Regions from separate parts of the Homo sapiens genome. Here regions 2, 3 and 4 are each reported to be linked to region 1. The links are microRNA targets in miRTarBase. Many come from high-throughput screens and were not tested one by one. Region 1 holds a microRNA gene; each other region holds the end of a gene's coding sequence.

The links. Region 1 holds the annotated microRNA hsa-miR-4728-5p (UGGGAGGGGAGAGGCAGCAAGCA, at 1,645-1,667, opposite strand). A microRNA usually pairs through its seed, bases 2 to 8, with sites in the 3' UTR of a target mRNA and lowers its output. Matches are read on the target gene's strand: a 7mer-m8 pairs with bases 2 to 8, a 7mer-A1 pairs with bases 2 to 7 and ends in A, and an 8mer does both.
Region 2: miRTarBase lists ZNF790 as a target of hsa-miR-4728-5p. The part of its 3' UTR that is shown has no 7-base or 8-base seed match.
Region 3: miRTarBase lists MOCS3 as a target of hsa-miR-4728-5p. Seed matches in the 3' UTR shown: 7mer-A1 at 1,054-1,060, 7mer-m8 at 1,258-1,264, 7mer-A1 at 2,860-2,866, 7mer-A1 at 3,027-3,033, 7mer-A1 at 3,247-3,253 and 7mer-A1 at 3,403-3,409.
Region 4: miRTarBase lists CRKL as a target of hsa-miR-4728-5p. Seed matches in the 3' UTR shown: 7mer-A1 at 1,009-1,015 and 7mer-A1 at 1,144-1,150.

Annotation. Positions count from the first base shown.
Region 1 is chr17:39,720,905-39,728,162 of GRCh38, reverse strand. It overlaps MIR4728 (microRNA 4728), which reads right to left and starts at 1,668; the gene lies at 1,602-1,668. ERBB2 (erb-b2 receptor tyrosine kinase 2) reads right to left here. Exons shown (of 27, transcript NM_004448.4): 17 at 4,706-4,844; 18 at 4,503-4,625; 19 at 4,153-4,251; 20 at 3,252-3,437; 21 at 2,959-3,114; 22 at 2,761-2,836; 23 at 2,310-2,456; 24 at 1,504-1,601; 25 at 1,160-1,348; 26 at 616-868; 27 at 1-474. The coding sequence ends at 119. RefSeq lists an enhancer at 888-1,860.
Region 2 is chr19:36,813,234-36,820,916 of GRCh38, forward strand. ZNF790 (zinc finger protein 790) reads right to left here. Exons shown (of 5, transcript NM_206894.4): 5 at 4,195-6,881. The coding sequence ends at 5,200. All of the region lies in intron 3 of ZNF790-AS1 (ZNF790 antisense RNA 1), which reads left to right. Among named protein-coding and RNA genes, the nearest start is that of ZNF790-AS1, 20 kb to the left of the region's middle.
Region 3 is chr20:50,959,778-50,967,197 of GRCh38, forward strand. It overlaps MOCS3 (molybdenum cofactor synthesis 3), which reads left to right. Exons shown (of 1, transcript NM_014484.5): 1 at 1-4,152. The coding sequence ends at 448. Among named protein-coding and RNA genes, the nearest start is that of MOCS3, 4.7 kb to the left of the region's middle.
Region 4 is chr22:20,949,525-20,955,041 of GRCh38, forward strand. CRKL (CRK like proto-oncogene, adaptor protein) reads left to right here. Exons shown (of 3, transcript NM_005207.4): 3 at 187-4,223. The coding sequence ends at 321. Among named protein-coding and RNA genes, the nearest start is that of LINC01637, 4.8 kb to the right of the region's middle. RefSeq lists enhancers at 1,995-2,496, 2,497-2,996.

The DNA of each region.
Region 1 (7,258 bases):
ATGGCAGGTTCCCCTGGAAGTGGTCGGAGGGCCCTCCCACCTCTTGATGCCAGCAGAAGTCAGGCCTTCCCTGCTCCCTGAGGACACATCAGGGCTTCTGCGGACTTGGCCTTCTGGTTCACACTGGCACGTCCAGACCCAGGTACTCTGGGTTCTCTGCCGTAGGTGTCCCTTTGAAGGTGCTGGGTGGAGCCCCCCGCTCTGGTGGGTCCTGGTCCCAGTAATAGAGGTTGTCGAAGGCTGGGCTGAAGGCAGGAGGAGGGTGGGGCTGAGGGGCAGCTCCTCCCTGGGGTGTCAAGTACTCGGGGTTCTCCACGGCACCCCCAAAGGCAAAAACGTCTTTGACGACCCCATTCTTCCCTGGGGAGAGAGTCTTGGGCCTTTCCAGAGTGGCACCAGCAGGTCGGGCAGCAGGCAGAGGGCCCTCTCGGGGCGAAGGGGGCTGGGGCCGAACATCTGGCTGGTTCACATATTCTGAAAGGTCAAGAGAAGGTGACCCATTAGGGGAAGGAACCCCGGTGTCTCTGCCACTCCCTCTGCCCCCACAGTGGACCCTGGGCTGAAGGTCCCACCTCCCCTGCCCATCAGTCTCTCTGCTTAGACTGGACTCCATACCAGGCTGGGGGCTGCAGGTCAGGGGGGCAACGTAGCCATCAGTCTCAGAGGGCAGGGGTACTGTGGGGTCCTCACTGTACCGCTGTAGAGGGCTGGGGTCATGTGTGGGGAGGCTTTGCAGCCCCTTGGCTGCCCCCATTCCCAGGTCACCATCAAATACATCGGAGCCAGCCCCTTCGGAGGGTGCCAGTGGAGACCTGGGGGCCTCCTCTTCAGAGGGCTCCAGCCCTAGTGTCAGGTCCCCACCGCCACTCTGGGGACAAGAAAGAAAGTCATGATGGGGGTCACTCACGGATCTGGGATGGGGACTCCATGGAAGGTGACAGGGTCACAGGAGAAAAACAGAGGTCACCTTTGGGGTATGACACAGTCACCGTGGAGAGAATGGGGTCACAGGGGTTGGAAGGCAGTAAGAATTTTTTGTAGGGATAATGGGGTTTCCTTGAGAGGTGACAGTTGAGGGAACATCAGAGAAAGGGACCCTAGTCCACCGGGGTTGGGGGAGGTAAGCAGACAGCCACACAGTGTGACCGAGGGCACTGACCCTGGTAGATGAGCTGCGGTGCCTGTGGTGGACCATGCCCCCAGCGCCCGGGGCAGGGTCTGGACAGAAGAAGCCCTGCTGGGGTACCAGATACTCCTCAGCATCCACCAGGTCCCCCATGTCATCGTCCTCCAGCAGTGAGCGGTAGAAGGTGCTGTCCAAGGGACTGGCTGGGCCCAAGTCCTCATTCTGTGGAGGAAGGAGAGGCAGGATGGTGGCCCCTCCCCAGCCCAGCATGCAGCCTTCCGTGAGGGGCCTGGCATACTGGACTCATCTCTCCTTCCCACCCTCTGCAGGAGGGTGCTCTTAGCCACAGGCAGGGATGGGGCACAGAGGCCCAGTACCTGGATGACCACAAAGCGCTGGGGGTCCCTGGCCATGCGGGAGAATTCAGACACCAACTCCCGGAATCTTGGCCGACATTCAGAGTCAATCATCCAACCTGGGGCAGGAGGGAGGTCAGCATGCTAGTCCCAGGCCCTGTGTGCTTGCTGCCTCTCCCCTCCCACTCCCCCTCCAGTCTGGTCTAGACAGTCCCAAGGGACAGCCCAAAGCCCTCAGGTGGTAGAGAAGTAGCACCAGACTCTGGGGTCTTCAGCCAGAACCTTTGGCATCTCTTCTAGTTTCCCTTTTAATTTTTTTTTTCTTTTTGTTTGCTTTTTTATTTTTTTGAGATGAGGTTTCGCTCTGTCACCCAGGCTGGATTTCAGTGGTGCAATCATAGCTTACTGCAACCTTAAACTAGGCTCAAGTGATCTTCCTGCCTCAGCCTCTCCTGAGTAGCTGGGACTACTGGCACACACCACCACACCCAGATAATTTTTTTATTTTTTGTAGAGATAGGATCTCACTATGTTGCCCAGGCTGGTCTTGAACTCCTGGCTTCAAGGGATCCTCCCACCTCAGCCTCCAAAAGTACTGGGATTACAGGCATGAGCCACTGTGCCCAGCTTAATTTTGTACAAGAGTGTTCCTCAAGAGTGGCTTTGGACTTTGACTGTAAAAGGGATACAAGAAGGTTTTGAGGCTCCTAACATACTAGGGCTCCTGGGTCTACATACATCCTGGTCCCCTTTCATGCCCCTTGTGGGCTCCTCCACCCAGGACCTCCCACCCTCCTCCAGGCAGCCAGCACAGCTCAGCCACGCACATTTGACCATGATCATGTAGACATCAATGGTGCAGATGGGGGGCTGGGGCAGCCGCTCCCCCTTTTCCAGCAGGTCAGGGATCTCCCGGGCTGGGATCCCATCGTAAGGTTTGGCCCCAAAAGTCATCAGCTCCCACACAGTCACACCTAAGGCAGAGACAGGGTCAGGAGTGGGAGGGCCAGAGGGAGCTTTAGTGTACTGAGCCAGAGGTTCTGCTCAGGAGTCTAGCATCATGGCAGGTAGCAGGGGGAGATGTGATGCCAGGAGACAGACCCTACCCGGTCTTTCCCTAATCCTGGGAAGTGCACAGACCCTGCAAGGTGGGGCACAGGCAGCCCCTTCCCTCCCTTCACATGCTGAGGTGGCCCCGTAATTCTCCCCATCCCAGCTCTCATCCTCCCTCCAGCCATGGCTCCTCACCCACCCCTCCCAACACCCCCCATCACACACCATAACTCCACACATCACTCTGGTGGGTGAACCGCCGGCGGAGAATGGACTCCAGCGCCATCCACTTGATGGGCACCTGGGAGGGCAGAAGAGGAAGTCCTCCAACTGTGTGTTGTGGGGAGGTGGCCACTCAGAGTTCTCCCATGGGCTAGACACCACTCCACCCAGCCTCCTCTGCTCCTTGGTCCTTCACCTAACCTTGCCCCCATCTGCATGGTACTCTGTCTCGTCAATGTCCAGCAGCCGAGCCAGCCCGAAGTCTGTAATTTTGACATGGTTGGGACTCTTGACCAGCACGTTCCGAGCGGCCAAGTCCCTGTGTACGAGCCGCACATCCTCCAGGTAGCTCATCCCCTGGAATGGGAAGCACCCATGTAGACCTTCTGGGAGGGCCTGGGCCTGGCCACATGCCCAGCAAGAGTCCCCATCCTAGCCCCTTGTGGACATAGGGGTTTGCTCCGGAGAGACCTGCAAAGAGCCCAGGTGCATACCTTGGCAATCTGCATACACCAGTTCAGCAGGTCCTGGGAGCCCAGGCGTCCGCGGTTTTCCCGGACATGGTCTAAGAGGCAGCCATAGGGCATAAGCTGTGTCACCAGCTGCACCGTGGATGTCAGGCAGATGCCCAGAAGGCGGGAGACATATGGGGAGCCCACACCAGCCATCACGTATGCTTCCTGGGGACAAGGGTACGCTGAGAGGGTATGGGAGACCACACACCCCCAAACACCACACAGCCTCCCAACCATCACAAACCACAGCCATGGCCCACAGCCTGTGAAGGCTCAAAGTACCAGCCTGGACAACATGGTGAAACCCTGTCTCTACTAAAAATACAAAGATTAGGCCGGGCACGGTGGCTCACACCTGTAATCCCAGCACTTTGGGAGGCCGAGGCGGGCGGATCATGAGGTCAGGAGTTTGACACCAACCTGGCCAACATGGTGAAATCCCATCTCTACTAAAAATACAAAAATTAGCCGGGCGTGGTGGCTCGCGCCTGTAATCCCAGCTACTCAGGAGACTGAGGGAGAAGAATCGCTTTAACCTGGGAGGCTGAGCTGAGACCGCACCATTTCACTCTAGCCTGGGTGACAGAGCGAGACTCTGTCTCAAAAAAAAAAAAAAAATTAGCGGGCGCTTGTAATCCCAGCTACTCAGGAGCCTGAGGCATGAAAATCGCTTGAGTCCAGGAGGTGGAGGTTGCAGTGAGCCGAGATAACGCCACTGCACTCCAGCCTGGGTGACAGAGCAAGACTCCGTCTCCAAAAAAATAGTCTAGGTTTGCGGGAGTCATATCTCCCCAAACCCCAATGAAGAGAGACCAGAGCCCAGACCTGCAGCCATGGGGTCCTTCCTGTCCTCCTAGCAGGAGAGGGTGGAGGGGCTTACGTCTAAGATTTCTTTGTTGGCTTTGGGGGATGTGTTTTCCCTCAACACTTTGATGGCCACTGGAATTTTCACATTCTCCCCATCAGGGATCCAGATGCCCTGGGCAGAAAGAGGAGGATATGAGTGAGAAGAGCGTGGGCTGGATCCTACCTGCCTTCCAGGAGATCATTACTTGTCCTCCAAACATCCTTCACCACCCTAGGGCTTGGCCCCGCTCCCTTCTCCGCTGTAACTGCCCTCCCCCAAACACTGCCTCCAGCTCTTGCCCCTCCCATCAGAACTGCCGACCACACCCCTCCAGGCACCGCCCCCATCCTCTGGGGCCGCCCACCCCAGGACCTGGCCCTGACCTTGTAGACTGTGCCAAAAGCGCCAGATCCAAGCACCTTCACCTTCCTCAGCTCCGTCTCTTTCAGGATCCGCATCTGCGCCTGGTTGGGCATCGCTCCGCTAGGTGTCAGCGGCTCCACCAGCTGGGGTGAGGGGGTGGTGGGTCAGTGCCGGGGGCCGGTGCAGACCCCACGCGGGCTGGGAGGACTTCACCCCGCCTCACCTCCGTTTCCTGCAGCAGTCTCCGCATCGTGTACTTCCGGATCTTCTGCTGCCGTCGCTTGATGAGGATCCCAAAGACCACCCCCAAGACCACGACCAGCAGAATGCCAACCACCGCAGAGATGATGGACGTCAGAGGGCTGGGGGCGGAAGCCAGGGTCAGGGATTGAGGGCTAGTTTGGGGTGGGAGGGACAAAGGGGGCCCACGGGGGACATGAAGGTGTTTGGCATTCGGAAAGGGAAGTCGGAAGGGTGACCCACAGGCTTGGACCCTCTCCTACTCTAAAACCTGCCTTGGCTCCCCGCTGCCTCCACAATAAAGTCCAAACTCCTTGTAGGCAATCAGAACCCTCTCCGCATCTCCAGATTCTCTATACTCTTGCCCTTGGCTCTGGCTTAGGGCTTCAACAATTCATGGTGTAAAAATCACTAAGGACTCTGGGCGCGGTGGCTCATGCCTGGAATCCTAGCACTTTGAGAGTCTGAGGTGGGCAGATCACAAGGTCAGGAGTTCGAGACCAGCCTGGCCAACATAGTGAAACCCCCGTCTCTACTAAAAATACACACACACAAAAATTAGCTGGGCGTGGTGTGGGTGCCTGTAATCCCAGCTACTTGGGAGACTGAGGCAGGAGAATCGCTTGAACCCGGGAGACAAGAGGTTGCAGTGAGCTGAGATTGTGCCACTGCACTACGGCCAGTGCAAGACTCCATCTCAAAAAAAAAAAAGTCACTAAGGAGACTGTTAATACACATGCCCCTCAACACCAAGGGGCTACGTCCTGATAAACCAATTCTAAGTTGAAACTGAAAATGCATTTAAGACACCTAGCCTGGCTTACACGTGCTCAGAACATTTACACTGCCAGCAGCTTACAGTTGGGCAGAATCATCTGACACAAAGCCTATTTTATAGTAAACTGTTAAATAAGTTTGTGTTATTTATTTATTTATTTTTGAGACAGGGCCTTGCTGTGTTGCCCAGGCTGAGTGCAGTGGTGAGATCATGGCCCACTGCAGCCCTGACCTCTGGGCTCAAGCAGTCTTTCCACCTCAGCTGCCCAAGTAGCTGGGACTACAGACACACGCCACCACACTCAGCTAGTTTTTTTATTTTTTGTAGAAATGGGGTCTCACTATGTTGCCCAGGCTGGTCTCGAGCTTCTGGCCTCAAAGGATCCTCCCACCTTGGCCTCCTAAAGTGCTGGGATTACAGGTGTGAGCCACGGTGCCTGGCTATGTAATTTATTGAATACTGAAAGTAGGGCTGGGCATGGTGGCTTGAGGCTGAGATGGGCAGATCACCTGAGCTCTCGAGTTCGAGACCAGCCTGACTAACATGGAGAAACCCCGTCTCTACTAAAAATACAAAATTAGCCGGGTGTGGTGGTGCCTGCCTGTAATCCCAGCCACTCTGGAGGCTGAAGCAGGAGAATCGTTTGAACCTGAGAGGTGGAGGTTGCGGTGAGCCAAGACTGCGCCATTGCACTCCAGCCTGGGTAACAACAGCAAAATGACATCTCAAAATAAATAATAAATAAATAAATAAATAAAAATAAAAGTGAAAAACAGAATGGCTGTATGGGTATTCAAAGTACGGTTTATACTGAATGTATATTATTGCTTTTCCACCATTGTAAAGTCAAAAAATCCTAAGTAATATCACAAATCAGCACACAGTCTGTATGCATACAATTTTGGGGCCCCACCCCCAGAGATTCTGACTGCTGCATGGGTACAGGAATGTACACCTGATGATTTTGATGTTCTAGCCAAAATTTCCACCCACAGGTCATGATTTTCCACACCTCCCAGTGTTTGCATAGGCTGTCCCTTCAGCCTGGACCACCATTTCTCCACAGGGTCATCTTTTAAGACTCGGCTCCGCCAGGCACGATGGCTCACACCTGTAATCCCAGCACTTTGGGAGGCCGAGGCAGGTGGATCACCTGAGGTCAGCAGTTCAAGACCAGCCTGGCCAACATGGCAAAACCTCATCTCTACTAAAAATACAAAAATTAGCCGGACGTGGTAGCGCATGCCTGTAATCCCAGCTACTGGGGGGCTGAGACAGGAGGATTGCTTGAACTGCTTGAACCTGGGAGGCAGAGGTTGCAGTGAGCCAAGATCGTGTCATTGCACTCCAGCCTGGGCAACAGAGCAAGACTCCATATCAAAAAAAAAAAAAAAAAAAAAAGACTTGGCTCATCGCCAGGAGTGGTGGCTCACTCCTGTGATCCCAACATTTTGGGAGGCCAAAACTGGAGGATCACTTGAGCCCACGAGTTTGAGACCAGCTCGGGCAACATAGTGAGACCCTGTCTATACAAAAAAAATTTTTTAAATTACCCAGGCGTGGTGGCACGCTCCTATAGTCCCAGCTACTGCAGAAGGGTAACTTGAGCCCAGGAGGTCAAGGCTGCAGTGAGCCTGTGATTACACCACCACATTCAAGACTGGACAAGAGAGCAAGACCCTGTCTCAATCACTCAATAAAAAGATAGCGTATCTGGCTGGGCACGGTGGCTCATGTCTGTAATCCCAGCACTTTGGG
Region 2 (7,683 bases), not on the chromosome of region 1:
GTCCTTTGCATGTCCATATGTATTTTAGAATTGAGTTCCCAATTTCTACAAAACAAAAAGCCTCCTGAATATTCAAAATGGGATTTCACTGAATCTATAGGTCAGGTTGGAAAGAATTGACATATTAATGGTATTGAGTCTTGTAGTCTCTGAACATAGTATATCTCTATTTAGGTCTTTTTTAAAGTTCTCCCAGAAGTGTTTTTAATTTTTATACTATACATCTTGCACTTCTTTTGCCAGATGCATCACTATGTATTTCATATTGTTTATGGTGTTATAAATGGCATTTAAGGTTTTAAGGTTCAGATTGTTCATGGCTAGTTCATGCAAAATCATCTGCTTTATATATATTGATCTTTATTTTGCAGTCTCACTAAGCTCATTTAGTTCTAATAGTGTTGTAGATACCTTCAGATTTTTTTTATATAGACAATCATATAATCTGTTAATAAAGATGATTTTACTTCCTTTCCAATCTGGATACTTTGTATTCTTTCATTTATTGCACTAGCTAGAACTTCCAGTATAATGCTTAGTGGAAGTGTTTAGACCAGGTATCCTCTTTTTGCTGATCTTTGGACTTTTACCATTAAGTATGATGTTAGCAGTAGGTTTCTCACACATACTCTTTATTGGTTAAGGAAATTCCCAGAATCCCAGAATTCTTTTCCTCCTTAACTGAATTATTCTCCTTAATGAATGCTGGATGCCTAGTAAATTTTTTATTTTATTTTATTTTTTAATTTTTATTTATTTTTTTGAACTGGAGTCTCGCTCTGTCGCCCAGGCTGGAGTGCAGTGGTGCGATCTCAGCTCACTGCAACCTCTGTCTCCCGGGTTCAAGTGATTCTCCTGCCTCAGCCTCCTGAGTAGCTGGGATTACAGACCTGGCGGGTTTTTTTTTTTGGTATTTTTAGTAGAGACGGGGTTTCACCATGTTGATCAGGCTGGTCTCGAACTCCTGACCTCAGGTGATCCACCCGCCTCAGCCTCCCGAAGTGCTGGAATTACAGGCTCGAGCCACCGCACCCAGCTGATGCCTAGTAATTTTTTATTTTCCACTTTGGCTACTGGGAAAAGGAATTATTCCTGGACGTTTTTGAGCTCTGTGGATTCTTCCCTCTAATCCTTTAAGGTAATTGTTTTTCCCTGGCTTCAGGTAGTTTTCACACACGCACGTGTTGATGAATATTTAGCTGAACTTAAAGGAAGATCCTCTGGAGATTTCCGTGCAGTTCTCTCCTCTTCAGTGTTTTGCCTTGTCAACTCGGGCCACTTTGGCCTCATCAGACTCCTCATTCTATCTAAACACTAGGAGACCACCAGGCTCTGCCTGAGTTACTCCTCCCAGCAGTAATCTGGAAAAACTAGGAAAAATTTATTTCTGTTTTTTTCAGGGATCACTGTTCTTCATTGGAAATTGACATTTTAGTATATTCAATGTCTTAAAAACCATTGTTTCACCTATTTCGTTTAGCTTTTTAGTATTTACAGATATAAGGGTAAATCTGGTCTGTTTCTCCATTTGATCAGAAGCAGACATCTGTTCATTCTGTTACTGGTGACTTTCAGTTAACAGAATAATAAAATTAATATGAATATGCCACACTTTTCTAGTTAAAATGTTTTGTCTAGGAAATATTCTTTACTGTGAGGTTATAAAATGATTCTCAGATAAAAACAAGGTAAAATCAAAGGTGACTACTTTCCAACCTTGCTCTCTCCCACCTATAGTTTGTATTTTAATTTTTCTTAAGAGACAGGGGTTTTGCTATGTTGCCCAGGTTGGACTTGAACTCCTATGCTCGAGGGATCCTCCTACCATGTCCTCCCAAGTAGCTGGGATTACAGGCGTGCACCACCACACCCTGCTCCCACCTATTATTTCATCATTTTGATTAGGTCTTGGCTTATCCTTCCACTGTTTTTGAAAGTATAAACATAGCTGGGTGCGGTGGTTCACGCCTGTAATCCCAGCACTTTGGGAGGCTGAGGCGGGCAGATCACGAGGTCAAGAGATCGAGATCATCCTGGCCAACATGGGGAAACCCCATCTCTACTAAAAATACAAAAACTAGCTGGGCATGGTGGCGCATGCCTGTAGTCCCAGCCTCTCGGGAGGCTGAGGCAGGAGAATCTCTTGAACCCGGGAGGCGGAGGTTGCAGTGAGCCAAGATTGTGCAAGCGCACTCCAGCCTGGCAACAGAGTGAAACTCCATCTCAGTGTACTTGTCACCTTAAAAAAGATCTAGTCAACATGAATGAAAATGGCTTATTACAATACAGTTACATAACAAAAAATTATTTTTCACACAAATTGTGAAATTCCATAGATGACAATAATTTAGGAGGGAACTACCTGTTAAAGGTGTGACTTACAAAATGTGCTAAATATGTGTACATATAGTCACCATTTCTTAACTCATGTAACACTAAAAGATACCAAGAACTTCACTTAGAAGAAATTGATAAAGTAACTTTTCATCATTCAGAATTACCCATCCAGGCTGGTCACGGTGGCTCACACCTGTAATCCTGGCACTTTGGGAGGCTGAGGTGGGCGGATCACCTGAGGTCGGGAGCTCGAGACCAGCCTGGCCAACATGGTGAAACCCCATCTCTATTGAAAATACAAAAATTAGCCAGGCATGGTGGAGGGTGCCTGTAATCCCAGGTACTCGGGAGGCTGATGCAGGAGAATCATTTGAACCTGGCAGGCAGAGATTGTAATGAGCCAAGATCACCCCACTGCACTCCAGCCTGGGCAACTAGAGTGAGACTCCACCTCAAAAATAAAAATTATCCATCCTGCTCAGAGCTTAAACATTATAAGCAAATATCTACTATATTATTCTTTGATTAAATATTGGGTTCATCTATGTAAGTTTTTTTCATGTATCTTCATGAGTGAAATTTTTCTGGAATTTGATGTTCAAGAGCTATCCCATCTACTTTTATTATAAAAATGTTAGTCTTTTAGCATGCCCTGGCAAATTTTCCATAGGATTTTCTATTCTTCAGGGTGTAGCCTGTACAGTTTTCTAGTCTTACATGTTTGTTTTGTTTTGTTTTAGACAGGGTCTTGCTCCATCACCGACTGCAGTGCAGTGGGGTGATCACAGCTTACTGCAGCCTCAAACTCCTGGGCCCAAGCAGTCCTCTCACCTCAGCCTCCTGAGTAGCTGGGACCAGAGGCATGTGCCACCACACCTGGCTAATTTATTTTTTGCAGAGATGGGGGTCTCCCTATGTTGTCCAGGCAAGTCTGGAACTCCTGGTTCAAGTGATACTCCTGTCTCAACCTCCCAGAGTGTTTGGATTACAGGCATGAGCCACTGTGCTCAACCTCATCTTACATGATACTTTTTTCTATTTTTTGAACTTTTTGGGTTGTTTTTGAAACTTAATCATATTTAATAATGTTTTCCTAGAAAAAAACCGTACACATATAAAAATCATGTCTAACAGAGTTCACATACTTAATACTAAAAAATATCTCCAAACATATAGTTATATTCCATTTCTCCTTATAATATAGTAGAGGCACTGACAAAGTCTAATGAATAATAGTTTTCTTCAAAGGACTAGATTTTGATGAAAAACCTGTATGGTTTTTTATTCCATGATTTCAGCTTTTCATTAAGCCTTTCCATTCATTCATTTGGGGTATTTGTTCTTATTCTACCTTGCTGTGTAATCATTATTTAACTCAATAAATATTTGAGGCCCTACAACATTATAGGCACTGTCCTAAGTGCTGTGGATACAGTGCTGTGGATACAGTGATGAAGAGAAACAAACTGCCCTCAGTCTTCTTGGTTTTATACACAGAGCAATTTCTATTGATAACTGTTTTAGTTATTTCACAGGATTTAAAATATAGGTCTCATTATCATTCTAAATACTCTGTAATTTCACTTTTTATTTGCTCTTTAATCTAAGAATGGTTTATATATAGTAGTAAATTTCAAAGAGGTAAGAATCCATATGGCTATCCATTTGCTAGTTTCTGAGTTATAACTGTGGTAAAGAATTATATAACACTTGGCTTTAGAAATTTGTTAGAGAGAAGTTATTTCTGAATGTCTTTTAAAAAACTGCTGAACACTCAACAACCCCACTTTTACTAAAGTCATAAGGCTTTCTTTTATAGGTTTTTTTGATGTAGCATGTGAAATTAATATTCAAAGCTTTCTTCATTGTATTTTACTGATTTTTTTTCAGAATTAACATTCTGATGTTCAGTAAGACATAAATAGAGATGACATATTTGTCTATAATCATTATAGTCTTAAAAGTCCTCCTCTCATAAAATGGCTTAATACCAATACAAATGACAGTCACTAAGTCATGTAAATCTCAAATCATTCAACCCTTATAATCTAATGAATACGATTAAACAGACATAGATTTAAGATACTTTCCAAAAAAAAAAAATAGAGGCAGGATGTATTGAAACAAGACATGCCAAATAAATTGTATGACATAGTTCAAGGCTTTTCTAGATTAATTACATGATTTTTGTGGAAATACAACAGAATTTTGCTAATGATGAAAGATTTCCAAAATGAATTATATATAAATTCTTGTGGGTTTTTGTTTTTGAGATGGAGTCTTGTTCTATCACCCAGGCTGGAGTGCAGTGATGTGATCTTGGCTCACTGCAACCTCCACCTCCCAGGTTCAAGGAATTCTCATGCCTCGGCCTCCCGAGTAGCTGGGACTACAGGCGTGTGCTACCACGCCCGGCTAATTTTTGTATATTTAGTAGAGACAGGGTTTCACCATGTTGGTCAGGCTGGTCTCGAACCCCTGACCTCAGGTGATCCACCCACCTCTGTTTCCCAAAGTGCTAGGATAACAGGTGTGAGCCACCATGCTTGGCCAAATTATATATAAATTCTTTATGCAACATCTCTGATGAGAATGTTTTGAGAATGATTCAAAAAGAATTCATGCTATCTCATAAAATTTTACCCTGATATTCTGCAATTGATAACTGATCAGTAATTTCTTTCCTATATTGATTGCATGATGAATTCTCTGCTGCTGCTGCTGCTGCTGCTGCTGGATGTGTGCTCTGTTAAAATGCCTTCCAATATTACTTACATTTGTGGTGTTCCTCAAGAGAAAAAAATAAATGACATCAATTAATGAGTCATGAATAAAGCCCTTCCTACACTTTTATATAATATTTCACAAGAGTGAAATGAAGTGAGAGCTTGAAGAAAATGCTTTCTCAAAATCTTTAAATTCATAGGATTTCTCAAAAGTGTAAATATTCTGGTGTTGAGCAAAGTTTGACTCATGACTAAAGGTGTTCCCATAGTCTGTCCATTCACAGAGATTTGCACTATTATGAATTTTTTGTTCAGTAAAATATGAATGGTGACTAAAGATGTGGCTACTTTTCTTGCATCCATAAGGTTCTGCATCAGTATGAATTTTCTTATGTCGTGTAAGCTGTGAACCCCAGATAAAAGATTTCCCACATTCTTTACATACGTAAGGTTCCTCACCAGTATGCATTCTCTGATGTCGAGTAAGTTGTGAACCCCAGAGAAAGGCTTTTCCACATTCTTCACATTCATATGGCCTCTTTCCAGTATGAATTTTCTGGTGTCGATTAAGTTCTGAACCACGAAAAAAGGTCTTTCCACATTCCTTACATTCATAGTTTCTCTCACCAGTATGAATTTTCTGATGTCGATTAAACTCTGAGCCATGAAGAAAGGTCTTTCCACATTCCTTACATTCATAGGATTTCCTCTCATTGTGAATTTTCTCATGTTGAGCAAGATACGAAGCCCAAGTAAAAGTCTTCCCGCATTGCTTACATTCATAAGGTTTCCTGCCAGTATGAATTCGCTGATGTCGAGCAAGGTGTGAGCTCCAAATATAGGCTTTCCCACATTTCTCACATTTATAAGGTTTCCTACCAACATGAACATTCTGATGTTGAGCAAGATTTGAACCACGAATAAAGGCTTTTCCACATTCCTTACACTCATGAGATTTCTCACCAGTATGAATTCTCTGATGCTGAGTTAGGTGTGATCCACGAGTAAAAGCTTTCCCACACTCCTTACATTCATAAGGTTTTTCACCAGTGTGAATTCTCTGATGTTTAATAAGATGTGATCGCTGACTAAAGGCCTTTCTACATTCATTACATTCATAGGGTTTTTCACCAGTATGAATTCTCTGATGTCGAGTAAGATCTGAGCCACAACTAAAGGCCTTCCCACATTCCTTACATTCATAAGATTTCTCACCAGTATGAATTCGCTTATGGACACTAAGTTGTGAATGAAATCTAAAGGCTTTCCCACAATCCTTACATTTAAAAGGTTTCTCACCGGTATGAATTCTCTTATGACCAGTAAGACTCGAACGTAAACTAAAAGACTTCCCACATTCTTTACATTCATATGTTTTCTTAACAGTGTGAACTGTCTGATATTGAATAACTTCTGAATCAGGAAGAAAGGTATTCCCACATTCTTTATCTCCACAGAATTTCTCACTTGTGTGAATTAACTGATGTTGAGTATGATCTGAACCAGAAATAAAGGCTTTCCCCAGTTCTTTAAATTCATTCAGTTTGTCTCCTGTATTAAGTCTCTGGTGTAGATTAAACACTGTATGCTGGTTAAAAGTGGGCCTTTTTTCACAGGTGCGTATCACCTGCTTGAAGCATTCCTCTTGATTATCTTGAAGTGTTTGAAACTGAGTGTTGCCTTCCCAGTCACCTCTAAAACATAAACAGTCAAGGCTGTGGTTTTTACAAATTCTCATTATTTCCAATTGGGCTATTTCTCTCTCAAAAATGCCATTTTTTGGTAATAACTTCTTGGTCTGACACCTCGACTGCATGTCTGAAAAATAAGAAGGTAAAAACATCATACGGTTGTATGTACAAAAAGCAATACAACTTCTAAAATAGATATAGAAAATCTTGAAGTAAAGCATATGAGAAGTGAATGGCTTAGAAAATTCTCAAATATGAGCAATATGAAAAAAAGGGCAAGAAATAAGTAGAAATTTAAAAGAAATAAAAGTTGAGTCAAGTGATGAGAAATATGTTTTATTTTGATCATATTCATCTGAGGAGCTCAATAAAAAATGATTATCCAGGTATCACCTCAATAACAGAATAATAAGTCATAAAATACCTACAAGTTTCCAAGTACTATGATGAATGTCTTATATAATTCAGAGCTTAAAAATAGGAATGCTGGGAAATAGCAGAATATCAGTCTAATATGAGGGAAGTAATCTGATCCAGAGTTACCAAAGTACTAGGATCTCAATAGCAGGGTATGCTGCATTTAGGTTAAAGGAGATAATTATGGGTGATAGTTCAGACAGAAAAATAGTTTGAAGGCCAGGTACAGTGATTCACACCTTTAATCCCAGCACTTGGAAAGGCTGAGGCAGATGGATTGCTTGAGCCCAGAAGTTTGAGACCAGCCTAGGCAACATGGCAAAAACCCATCTCTATAAAAAATTAGCCAGGAGTGGTGGTGCATGCCTGTGGTCCTAGCTACCTGGAAGGCTGAGGTGGCAGCATCACCTGAGCCTAGGAGATGAGGCTGCAGGGAGCCATGATCACACTACCACACTCCAGCATGGGTGACAGAGTGAGACCCTGTCTTTTTTTTTTTTTTTTTTTTAATA
Region 3 (7,420 bases), not on the chromosome of region 1:
TGAAGCCTTCTGTGGCTCCTCAGCCACTGATAAATGCCGCTCCCTGCAACTACTGAGCCCAGAGGAGCGTGTTTCTGTCACCGACTATAAGCGACTGCTGGATTCTGGGGCATTCCACCTGTTGCTGGACGTCAGGCCTCAGGTGGAGGTGGACATTTGTCGTTTGCCTCATGCCCTACACATCCCTCTGAAACATTTGGAACGCAGGGATGCGGAGAGCCTGAAACTCTTAAAAGAAGCAATCTGGGAAGAGAAGCAGGGCACACAAGAAGGGGCTGCTGTCCCCATTTATGTGATTTGCAAACTGGGAAATGACTCACAGAAAGCCGTGAAGATCCTCCAGTCCTTATCAGCAGCTCAAGAGTTAGACCCTTTAACAGTTCGGGATGTTGTGGGGGGCCTCATGGCCTGGGCTGCCAAAATCGATGGAACATTTCCACAGTACTGAGGTGACTGGTATAGTCTGATGAGAAAGATGTGGATTGCCATAATACCTCAAAGATACACTTGTTTGCATTTTTCGGTAATATACATAGGAGCTGGGGATTCTACAGTATCTGTGAATACGTGGACTCCTTTTTATAAGGAGTTTTAAAAATTGTTATGTATTGGATGAATGACTTATTAATGGATTATACCGTTTCTGAGAACCATCATTTTTTTTTTCAGCACACGGAGGATGTCTTGGACATGTGAGATGTAACGTGACAGGATTTTGCATTTTAAACTGCAGATCATTTACATGTCCTTATTTTCCACCTCCCCCAGTCAAAATGCTTTCTAAATCATTTTCACAGATTATATACTTCGGATCTGTTTACTGTTCAGTTAAGAAATTCTTGGATCTTATTAATATTTCAGATGATAGAATACATCCTACAGAAATACATGTTTAAAATGTAAATTGTTTTAATTATTCAGAAAGAGGGTCATTCTATTTGGCCTTTTGAATTAGTATCAAAATGAGATTTTTTTTTTTTTTTTGAGATGGAATCTCTCTCTGTTGCCCAGGCTGGAGTGTAGTGGTGCGATCTCAGCTCACTGCAACCTCCGCCTCCCAGGTTCAAGCGATTCTCCTGCCTCAGCCTCCTGAGTAGCTGGGATTACAGGCGCACGCCACCACGCCTGGCTAATTTTTGTATTTTTAGTACAGAGGGGGTTTCACCATGTTTGTCAGGCTGGTCTCGAACTCCTGACCTCGTGATCCGCCTGCCTCGACTTCCCAGAGTGCTGGGATTACAGGCGTGAGCCACCACACCCTCCCGAGATCTTTAAAGTTTACCAAAATAAAGGAAACCACCTTTGTAGTCTGTCAGTGTCTCTTATAAATTGCTACTGTTTTCTTAAAGTTAACTTCAGGGTCCACCTTATGTTGCACACATATCACATCGTTTAAATTGCATACTATGGTTTGACTTGCTTTGGAATTTTCAAGTCAAAGTCCCAACCCTTTGCCTCTCCCCCTTTAATTTGCCTTTTCTCTTTTGATTTAATGTTTTTTTATTCCAGCATTTTATACTAATGTAAAATGTTTTTATGTTTGTTTACTTAACATTTTCATAAAATAGTAGGTAGTCTCACCAACTTCCAATATATACAACAACATTATAAGTAAAAATTTGATTTGTGAGTGCCTATCAGTGGCCAGATGAACTAATGGCTTGTCAGAAGGGGGCCTGTGACCTCCTGCTTGCTGCATGCAGGCTTATAATCATCAATTGCTGCTGTTGTTTTTTTAAGAATGGCAGAAATCACAGATACAACTATAAAATCTTTGTATTTCTGTTAACCATTTTTTTTAAAGCTTAAATGTATCATAAGCCAGCAAAAACCCTTTGTAGACCAGATTTACTTACCAGTTTGCAATTTGTGATATAGAATCTTGTTTTATTATAAGAGGGTGGTATTTAACAAATTCAAAATTAGTCATCACTTTTTAACTGTGAAACATTGTAACTAATTCTTTGAACAGGTATACTTAAAGTATGGTATACCCTTCTGTTATAAAGATGAAGCAGGTCTCTTATGACTGTTCCTGCCAACGAGTTATGGAGGTAAATGACTGTGACCTGGAGTGGAGAACAAAGATGGCTGGCCTGTGTTTTTCATCTCCTTCTTCCAGGGACAACTGATTCTGATACATAGCAGGAAACAAATAGCGACACACAGGAACAATTTCATATTCTAAAGACTGAAGTCCTAAAGTTATAGACAGTTGTAGTTCCTATAAACCTGGTTGTCACAGGGGACAGGCAAGAGAAGCTGACTAGCTAAGTGTTAAAAGGTTTACTAAAGTGATAGGAGGTGCTTTTGAGAATTTTGGGGACAGATTCAAGGCTGTACTTCTAGGAATGATGCCCGAAATCATGCACAAAACTGGCCTTAGGAGAACAGTGTCTATGTTGTGCTGCCCTATCAAGTACCGGAGGAAACGCCACTACAGTCTCACCAGTTTCACTTGACGTGCCCCCCCAACTCTCCCAGAAAGCCCAACACTTCAGCCACAGTCCATGTGTCGAGAAACAGAGTCACTACATTATTCTTTTCTGAGTCAAGCCTTATGAGGGTGCCTGGTAGGCAGAGTCTAATTACATGCCTACATCTTAGCTGCAAGAGAGGCTGGGAATTTGTGTTTTGATATCTACAATAGGAAGACAGAACTCATGATGTGGGATTTTCCCAAATAGTGAAATATTTTTCAAAAGATGGGCTGTTAAGAATATAACAGATACCCAGTACACAACCCAGATCTATTTCAGTATTTGTTTTTTGTTGTTGTTGTTTTGGAGACAGAGTCTCGCTCTATCCCCCAGGCTGGATGGAGTGCAGCGGCACAATCTCGGCTCACTGCAACCTCCACCTCCCATGTTCAAGTGATTCTCATGCCTCAGCCTCCTGAGTAGCTGGGATTACAGGCACCTGCCACCACATCTGGCTAATTTTTCTATTTTTAGTAGCGATGGGGTTTCGCCATGTTGGCCTGGCTGGTCTTGAACTCCTGACCTCAGGTGATCTGTGCACCTCAGCCTCCCAAAGTGCTAGGATTACAGGCATGAGTCACTGCACCTGGCATATATTAGTATTTGAAATTTGGTTTTCTCTGGGGATTGTAGCTAGGTTTTTATGGTGAGATAGGATTTGAACATAATTTGTTTTTTGAGACGAAGTCTTGCTTCGTCGCCCAGGGTGGAGTGTAGTGTTGTGATCACAGCTCGCTGTGGCCTCAACCTCCTGGGTTCAAGTGATCCTCCCACCTCAGCCTCTCAAGTAGCTTGAATTACAGTTGTATGCCACCATGCCTAGCCATTTTTTAATTTAAAAATTTTTTGGTAGCAATGGGGTCTGAATATGTGGCCTAGGCTGATCTCAAACTCCTGGGCTCAAGCATCCCTCCTGCCTCAGCCTCCCAAAGTGCTTGGGATTACGGGTATGAGGCACCATGCCCAGCCTGAACTTGATTTTTTTGTTGTTTCCTTTTCATAACAAACATCAAATGCCTTCAGTGTACTAGTTCTTCTAGGTTCTGGAATAAAAATGAGCAAGAGGTTTCCTGTTGTAGAGGAGTTTATATTTAAATGGTGATAAGTAAATTACTGATAAGTGCCATAAAAGAAATGAAACTGTGACATATTAGGGTGGGGGAGGGGATCTGTTTTGAATAGCTTAATTATGGAAGGCCTCAGAGATGACATTAAACCCAAAACCTGAAAGGTGAGAAAGAGCCAGTTACAGAAGATCTGAGGAAAATTCTATACTGGGAGAAAAATAACTGTAAAGACCTCAAGGTAAATAAACTTGGAATGTTCCGTTCAAGAAACTGCAGAGGCAAGTTGGGTTGCAAACAATTAGGGAGAGTGGGACAGGGTGAGGTTTGAGAAGCAGGGAACATCATAAACTTTGTAGACCATAGTAGTTTGGTTTTTATTCTAAATACAATAATAGCTAATATTTTGAGCACTTACTGTGTTATTTGGGATTTGAATCCAGATGCTCTGGTTGAAGAGCCCATTCCCTAAGTGTCATGCTATACTGACTCTAAGCAAAACTTTGCCATTGCTTCATATGTGTTCATGCCCTGTCAGGGCATAGAAAGCAATCTATGTCCTGACAATCACGGAAGTGTATTCCAGATACAATAGAAATGTACTCTGAGACATTTGGTATGCCTCCTTCTCTCTAGATGTGGAACTCCAGAGTGAAATCTTGGGGAATCCTCTGTGTAACACTGGTGTATTACACAGGCAGTGTCCCGAGGTGGGTGGATCACTTGAGGTCAGGAGTTGAGACCAGCCTGGCCAACATGGAGAAACCCTGTCTCTACTAAAACAAAATTTGCCGAGTGTGGTGGTGTGCGCCTGTAATCCCAGCTACTTGGGAGGCTGAGGCAGGAGAATCACTTGAACCTGGGAGGCAGAGGTTGCAGTGAGCTGAGATCGTGCCATTGCACTCCAGCCTGGGCAACGAGTAAAATTCTGTCTCAAACAAACAAAAACCAAGCCCAGAATTTGGGTGAAAAATAGGATAGTTTATTATGAAGTACTGTGGATTGACACTGACTCTGGTTTCCAATCTTTAGTTCAATTATTCACGATTTAAAAAACAACAGTTGTGAATTATCTAGGTGTTTTTTTCTGCTGCTGCTGCCTTTTTTTTTGTGGGGGGGACAGAGTCTCTCTCTCCTAGGCTGGAGTGCATTGGCATGATCTTGGCTCACTGCAACTCAGCTTAGGACTATTTAATTAATCAACAGCTGCTATGTATTTTATCCTCATGCGCATTGCTCTGTAGAGAAACATCTGCCCATGTCTGTAGGCTTGACAACCCTGACCTTGCACAAAGGCCCGAGTTTCCCATTTATTTGCTTCTATTCTATCAGAACTAGAACCCAAGTGCTTATTATAAGTAGAGGACATGCAATGGGGAAGTCATTTAGGTCATGCCAAGGAAACACAACGGGTTCATTTAAGAAATATTTAATGCTCATTACAAATGGTCAGGTACTGATGCCTGACACAGAGGGACACAACCACGAACAAGACAGACTGGGCGTCTTGTCCATACAACCTTACATCCTAGTAGAAGAGGGAGAGGACAGATAACCAGTTATACAGTCATAGATTGTGATTTGTAAGAAGCAATAATGGCTGGGGGCTGGGGTGGTAGCCAGAGAAGACCCCTGGCAAGGGGCCGTTTCAGCCAAGAAGCTTGAAGGAGATGGCAGGAGCCACGAGGTGAGCTGGGAAGAGCATTCAGGCAAGGGGAACAGCAAGTGCAAGGGTTCTGAGGCTGGAAAGAGCATTTCAAGTTGGGATACACATAGAAGCCAGCTAAGGCCAGAGCACAATGAATGGGAAGAGGGAGGCCAGGGCCAGATGGCGCAAGGCATTGTGGGCTATGGTGAGGAGGCTGGATCTTATTCTAAGGATCATGGAAACCCATGGGAGGTTTTAAGAAGGAGGATGTGGCCAGGAACAGTGGCTCACGCCTGTAATCCTAGCACTTTGGGAGGCCAAGGTGGGTGGATCACCTGAGGTCAGGAGTTTGAGACCAGCCTGGCCAACATGGCAAAACTCCGTCTCTACTAAAAATACAAAAATTAGCCGGGCAGTAGTGGTGCATGCCTGTAATCCCAGCTATTCAGGAGGCTGAGGCGGGAGAATCGCTTGAACCCGGGGGGCAGAGGTTGCAGTGAGCCGAGATTGCACCACTTCACTCCAGCCTGAGCAAAAGATTGAAACTCCATCTCAAAAAAAAAGAAAAAAAAAAGGAGGATGTGCTGGTGTGCAGGGACCCTGTTTCTAAATTACCAAGATTCTTCCGGCCCCTCTGTGAAAAAGGGAGATTATGGTGCAAGGACAGAGGCAGGCGATCAGCTAGGCACAGGTGAAAAGTGATGGCACCTAAGTATGTCAGTTTCCTATTGCTGCTGTGACAAGTTACCACAAACGAAGTGGCTTGACACAGGTTTATTCTCTTACCATCCTGGAAGTCAGAAGTCCTAAAATCAAGGTGTGATCAGGGCTGCTTTTTTTTCTGGAGGCTCTGGGAGAGGATTCGTTCCTGGCCTTTTCCAGCTTCTAGAGGCTGCCTGCCTTCATCGGCTCTCGACCCTTCCTCCATCGTCGAAGCCAGTGGTATATCAATTTCAACCCCTAACTCCGTCGTGATGCCCTCAGTCCAACTCTCCCTCACAAACTCTGTCATTCTTTTTTTTTTTTTTTTTTTTTTGAGACAGAGTATCGCTCTGCCACCCAGGCTGGAGTACAGTGGCTCCATCTCGGCTCACTGCAACCTCCGCCTCCTGGGTTCAAGTGATTCTCCTGCCTCAGCCTCCCGAGTAGCTGGGACTACAGGCATGTGCCACCACGCCTGGCTAATTTTTGTATTTTTAGTAGAGACAGGGTTTCACCATGTTGGCCAGGCTGGTCTCGAACTCCTGACCTCAGGTGATCCATCCGCCTCAGGCTCCCAAAGTGCTGGAATCATAGGCGTGAGCCACCGCATCCAGCCTTGTCTGCCTCTTCTAAGGGCTTGTGATTATATAGGGCCCAACTGGCTAATCCAAGCTACACTCCCCATCACAGGATTTTTTTTTTTAACCTTGCAGCTCCAGCTCAAAGGATCAGACTTCCTAACTTAAATTACACCTGCAAAGTCCCTTTTACCATGAAAGTAACATATTTACAGGCTCCAGGGTTTCAGGCTTGACATCTTTGGGGGCTGTTATTCAACTGGCCACACTAGGACTAGAATGGGTGGTAGAGAGGAGGGAAGTAGACAGATTGGCGCGGTGACTTGGAGGTGGACATCTTTGAAGGATCAGAGGAGGGAGAGGGGGAAGTCAAGATGCCTCAGGGTTGGGCTTGAGCACCTGGATGGACTGGGTGGATGTTTGTGTTATTTACTGGGATGAGGATACTGATGAGAGCCACTGGGGGAGGACTGAGGACAGCAAGTAAGAAACATACTTTCTCCTTCAATATAGAGTATTCTTTTATGTCCATGGAATCATTAGACACACAATGAGAGAAGCACCAAGCAAGACATGCCAAATCTGTTCTTTATGGAGAATCATGAAACCTTCCTGGTGCCACAAGAAACCTCCTTACCAGGGGCAAACCAACCCAAGCCAAGAAGTAATTGTCTTCTACTCCTACAGATAGGAGACAGCAACTCCATAGACTTAAGTATACAGTAAAGTATTACTTTATATTTTGTAGGCTTAGTATCCTACTAAGCAAGTAATTCGAGATTCCTGAAATTTGGAACCATTATAAAAAATCTTTAATTGAACAAATTATATATAGAAAAATGCACAAATCCTGGCTGGGTGTGGTGGCTCACACCTGTAATCCCAGCACTTTGGGAGACCAAGATGAGGGGATCACTTGAGTCCCGGAGTTCGAGACCAGCCTGAGCA
Region 4 (5,517 bases), not on the chromosome of region 1:
CCAGGCGTTAGAGGTTACATTGAGCAGGGATCTCACCACTACACTCCAGCATGGCTAACAGAGTGAGACCCTGTGTCTAAATAATAATGTATGGGCCCTTTGGATAAGGTAGTGTTTGTGATTTAATGTAAACTGTCTTTTTCTTGTTGCAGAGAAATGCTAACTTTGTCTTCTTCATCCATACAGGTTGGTGACATCGTGAAAGTCACAAGGATGAATATAAATGGCCAGTGGGAAGGCGAAGTGAACGGGCGCAAAGGGCTTTTCCCCTTTACGCACGTCAAAATCTTTGACCCTCAAAACCCAGATGAAAACGAGTGATTGCTGTTGCCCTGTTTCCTGCTGCTTTGTTGTTCTGCCTGTCCTAGTCTCCTTTGAAGTGGGAAAGCATTTTCTCTCATAGGCAAGTCACACTGCATTGCCGAAGTCCAGCTTTCTGCAGACTGGCAGTCGCACACACATTTGGAATGCACACAGCGGCTGCCTCCTGATGTTTGTATCATAGTCGTATTGTCAAAGAGTAGCCGATTTTAGAGTTCTTTTGGATCATAAACTGGAAATACTGATGGAAGCACACAAGTGGAGAGAAGTTGACATGGAAAGGGTCTTCCTTCTCATTGCTGCCCGTTTGTACATGGGACTGATTCTGTTGTGTTCACCAGAGAAAGCTTGAGGCCATGGCGAGATACTGCATGTTTGCTGTTCCACAAAGCAGTGGCTTAGCTGCCATCTTGCTTTTCTTTGGACAACAGGAAGTGAACCTTAAGGAAGAGAGAATTCTGTTCTAAAACTCCAAAATCTGGCTTTTTTTTTTCTTTTGTTTTGGTTTGGTTTTGGAAAACTAATTAATTAGACTTGTGTGGGGGTTTTTTTTTGTTTTGTTTTGTTTGTTTTGTTTTGTTTTTTTGAGACGGTGTCTCGCTGCATCACCCAGGCTGGAGTGCAGTGGCGCAATCTCGCCTTCCTGCAGTCTCCGCCTCCTGAGTTCAAGCGATTCTCCTGCCTCAGCCTCCCAAGTAGCTGGGACTGCAGGCGCGCACACCACGCCCAGCTAATTTTTGTATTTTTAGTAGAGACGGGGTTTCATCATGTTGACCAGGCTGGTCTCAAACTCCTGACTTCAGGTGATCCACCCGCCTTCAGCCTCCCAACGTGCTGGGATTACAGCCGTGAGCCGCCGCGCCTGGCCTAGACTTGTGTGTTCTAAACAGGTTAAGTAGCAGGTTGGGTTTTTATGATAGTGCAAGGAATGACTCATGCCTCTGAGCTTCTAAACTGAAGCTGCTGTAACTAAAGGAATCTGAAAAGAACAACCCTGAAGCAGAGGCCTTTATTGTCTTGGTTGCCAGTAGTACCTTGTTTTGCCATGTAGCAGACAACACACAAAATAATGCAGTTGTGGTGTGCCATGCTATGTGCACAGCCCCTTGGATTACTTTGTTTTAAAAAGCATCAGAGTTGGGGGTACTTTAGGGAAACCTTTGCTTACCTTGTTTTGCCAGTGATAAGAGCAGTGGGTTGGAGGGCACTTGGCCAGTTTTCTGTTCAGCTTTTCAGTGAATGTACCCCTTTAAGGTTCAGACTTAAACTTCCTTAAAAAGTGGCGTTGTTCATAGAATCGTTGGACTCATTAATGAATCGTTCAACTCCACTCACTGAAGCCCAGACCTCCGTGCCCAGGCCCAATCTCGTCAGGCTGCCAGAGAAAGTTGGTGCTGCTCATACTGGTCTCACAGTCTAAGTAAGTGTCTGTGATGCTCCCAAGCAAAGGAAATGCAAGCTCTGGAAATTCGTTAATGTATTTGATGTCTTAGTGTTTTAGTGACTAGGGAGACCATTAACTAGTTTATCATTAACCACTTATCAGTGTATTGATGTTAAAGCATTTCCCTGTTAGCTAAAAGAGGCCTGTTCATACAAGCCAACTGGTATATACGTGTGGTTCATCCATCATCTGCTGCACATAGCAGACTAGAATTCTGGGAACCCTGTGCAATTCAGTCTGCTCTCCCTTGTGGACCCTGGTAAAGAAAAGCCTCAGCTCATAGTGAACACAGCAGACCTAGAAATGTAGCAGCAGCCTACTGAGTAGCTTTCATTTACTGATCATCTGCTGTGACTGTGGCCCTGTCTGGAGGTTCCTAGGTTTTGAGATTTAGAGCAATGCATTCTGGAGACAGAACCAGCAGAACAGCCATTTTTCAATTTTTCTTTAAATCAGTATTCCATCAGGCAGATAACTGCTGTATTCATGAATCTTGAGAGTGTTCCTGAGACAGAATTAATGGTCATTTGGGAAAACTATCGCCATGGCTTCCCATCTGTGGTTTTCCTCTAAAAGCCTTGGAGATTAGCCCTTCCTTGCCAGTGAGAACGGTGACCGCCTCCTGCTCTGCACGGTCTGCGGCAGTTGCCGCTTCTGGTTAGGTGTGTCAGGTTGGCTTATTTTGGGTTCAGGCCTGGCGTAGCACCCACAAGTGGCAGACATATCACAAGAGTCCCCAGACTCTGCCTAGAAACAGTGTTTGCCCTTTGGCCAGTGACGTGGTTCATCCCGGCCCATGTTGAGCCATGAGTGGAGTTTCCAACAGAGGGAGGAATGTGTGCCTTGTTCAAGGAGGGCACGACCCTTAGGCCTTTTTCAACCAGATTTAGCTGAAGGGCTTGACACCTTTGAATTACAGCAGTTGACTCAGAGTGCAAGAAGTCTGGCCATTTTGGAAAGCAAGGTTTCCTTTCAGCCCTGTCTACTGACCAATACCCCGACTCACCTTGTGTGGCGCACTTCAGAATCAGATATACCTAGAGTATACCTGTGGTTTGGTTTTATAATTAATCAGCTCGTTACTTCAGCCCATGAAAATGGCATCCAGGGCTGCCAGGAGATTCAGAGCTCAAAACAAGGCGAGCTTGAGTTCTGCACTCCAGATATGTGCCAAAACTAGTAAAACTTAACGGACTTACAACCTTGTCAGTTTTTTTAATGAGGCAGGGATACTCTGTTTTTCACACTAAACATATGAATGCAGCACTGCTGCCTCAGCTCAGCTTCGTGCCTGGGTTCCCCACTGGTCTGGGAAGACTGTTGTGCTCCATAGAGCAGTGCACATCTGACCCAGAGGGTGGGTGTTCATAACTGCTACTTGCTCTGCTCTACCATGTTTAAAGAAATATTTGGATGTTAAATTAACTCACTATGGTTTTTCACCTGGGAAGGAAACAAATTACGTACTAGAGGGCATTGACTGGTTAAAAACTTGTGTATCCCGGGAAGGACCTGCGGTACAGGAGTCAGCCATGTCTGTGCTGTGTGGAACCACCTGATGACATGGTTAACGAGGAAGACGATGTGTTGACCGGCTGCCGTTTGAGGACTTTGGTCACCCAGACTAGACACCTTCTGTGCTCATGTTTGGAAAGCTGAAAGGGAAGGACAGCTGTGCCCTCCTGGGAGCTCATGTGTCCCTGGCGCTGTGCTAGCTTTCCTTTACAGCTGTTTACAGACAAGGCAGGCCTGAGGCAGATGGCCACTGCTCTTGTGATGTTTGCTCAGAGGAATATGAACATTTTATTTTTGAAAAGGGATGATGTGGTTTTTTGCCAGGTGTTTATAATTAATCCTTTAATATTATGGTTATTAACCTCTTAAACATGAATGAATTCTTGATTGTTTTAACACAGTACCTAAGACTAATGCTTTCTGTGGACACCACTGAGCTCTGCCTCAACTCCACCCTCTGCGACCGGAGGACTATGCCCCTAGTAACTGCTGTCGGTGTGGACGCTGTGCTGGTTCTGTTTTCTAAAGGAGCAGAAGGACAGGTCTCTGAGACAGGATCGTTGTCCCTACAGGAGGAACAGTGGCCTTGCTTCTTAGACGGTCTTCACTGTGTGTTTTAAAACAACAACAACAACAACAACAACAACATAAAACTCTTTTGACCTGTAACTTAAAGATCATAAACTTCAGGCAATAATATTTTCTGTGTAAGCTTTTAAAATTATTTTTGGGGATCATAGCTTGTTTTATTTTGTGCTATAAAATTAACAGTATTAAATGACTTATATTCTTAGAATACATCGAGTGTCTTTTCTTAACAGATTAGTGCCTTTTTATTTTTGTATTCCGTTTTACGTTACTGGTCCCAGCATCAAAACCCTTGTTTCCATGGCCTGTTTGTATATTGTCTCAATAAAACTTGCATCAGCCGGTGGTGGCGGCAGCTTCGGTGTTTCAGTGTCTCCTCAGTCCGCCCCCACTAGCCTCCTGGCAGTTCATCAGTGGTGAAATCTCTGATGCTTCTCAGAGACCCTTAGTGCTGCTGCTGACCAAGAGCTAGAATGAAGTCTTGGCATCCGCCCATTCCAACACTCGGGCACCCAGAGGAGAGCACCTGGGGTCTCCCTCCAAAAGAGAAATCTGCCTCCCAGAGTGTCTGTCTTGTAGGTATTGTATGGGAGCCTAGTGCTTGGCCTTCTGAGCATGAGGCAATAGTTCCCACAGGTTGCACCACCACAGAGAACTTGGATCTTTTTCCTTCTAGGCACCCATATCTGAGGCTTCTAGTAAATATTTCTTCAGCATGAGCTAACCAGGGTTGAATGGTATCAAGCAGAAGTCATGGGAAGTGAGCAGCCTCATTGCAGGTCAGGGCATGATATCTGTGCGGCTTTCTTGAATCCTTTTCTGTTCTTGGCTGTAGGTGGTTCTCCTGATGAACTTTGGGAGACCTCCAAGTGGATTGGCTTGAGGTGTTGGGAGGCCCACTGACACCCCCTCAGCCAGGGCCTTGTCTCTCCTACTCCCAGCTCTCAGTACATTTTATCTTTCACTTCACTGTACTCTATTCCCATGCCTATTTGTGTATTTTGAGGTGCATATTTTCTTGTAAAACCTCAGGAAGCCATTTTTAAAAATTATGGCTGGATGTGGTGGCTCATGCCTGTAATCTCAGCACTTTGGGAGGCCGAGATGGGCAGATCTGGAGTTCAGGACCAGCCTGGCCAACACGGTGAAATCTCATCTCGGCAAAAAATATAAAAATGAGCCAGGCATGGTGATGCAGGCCTGTAGTCCCAACTACTGTGCAGGGAGGGCCAAGGTGGGAAGATCTTTTGAGCTTGGGAGGCAGAGGTTGCAGTGAGCTGACATACCACTGCACTCCAGCCTGGGTGACAGAGGAAGATCCTTCTCACCGCCCTCCCCGCCCCCACCCCCACTAAGACAGTCTTGCTCTGTTGCCCAGAGCTGGAATGCAGTGGTGTGACGTCACCTCATTGCAACCTCCACCTCCCGGGTTCAAGCAATTCTTCTGCCTCAGCCTCCCCTGAGTAGCTGGGATTACAGGTGTGTGCCACCACGTCCAGCTAACTTTTGTATTTTTTAGTAGAGACGGGGTTTCACCATGTTGGCCAGGCTGGTCTCAAACTCCTGACCTCAGGTGAGCCACCCACCTCAGCCTTCCAAAGTGTTGAGATTACAGGCATGAGCCACTGCGCCCAGCTGAGACCCTGTCT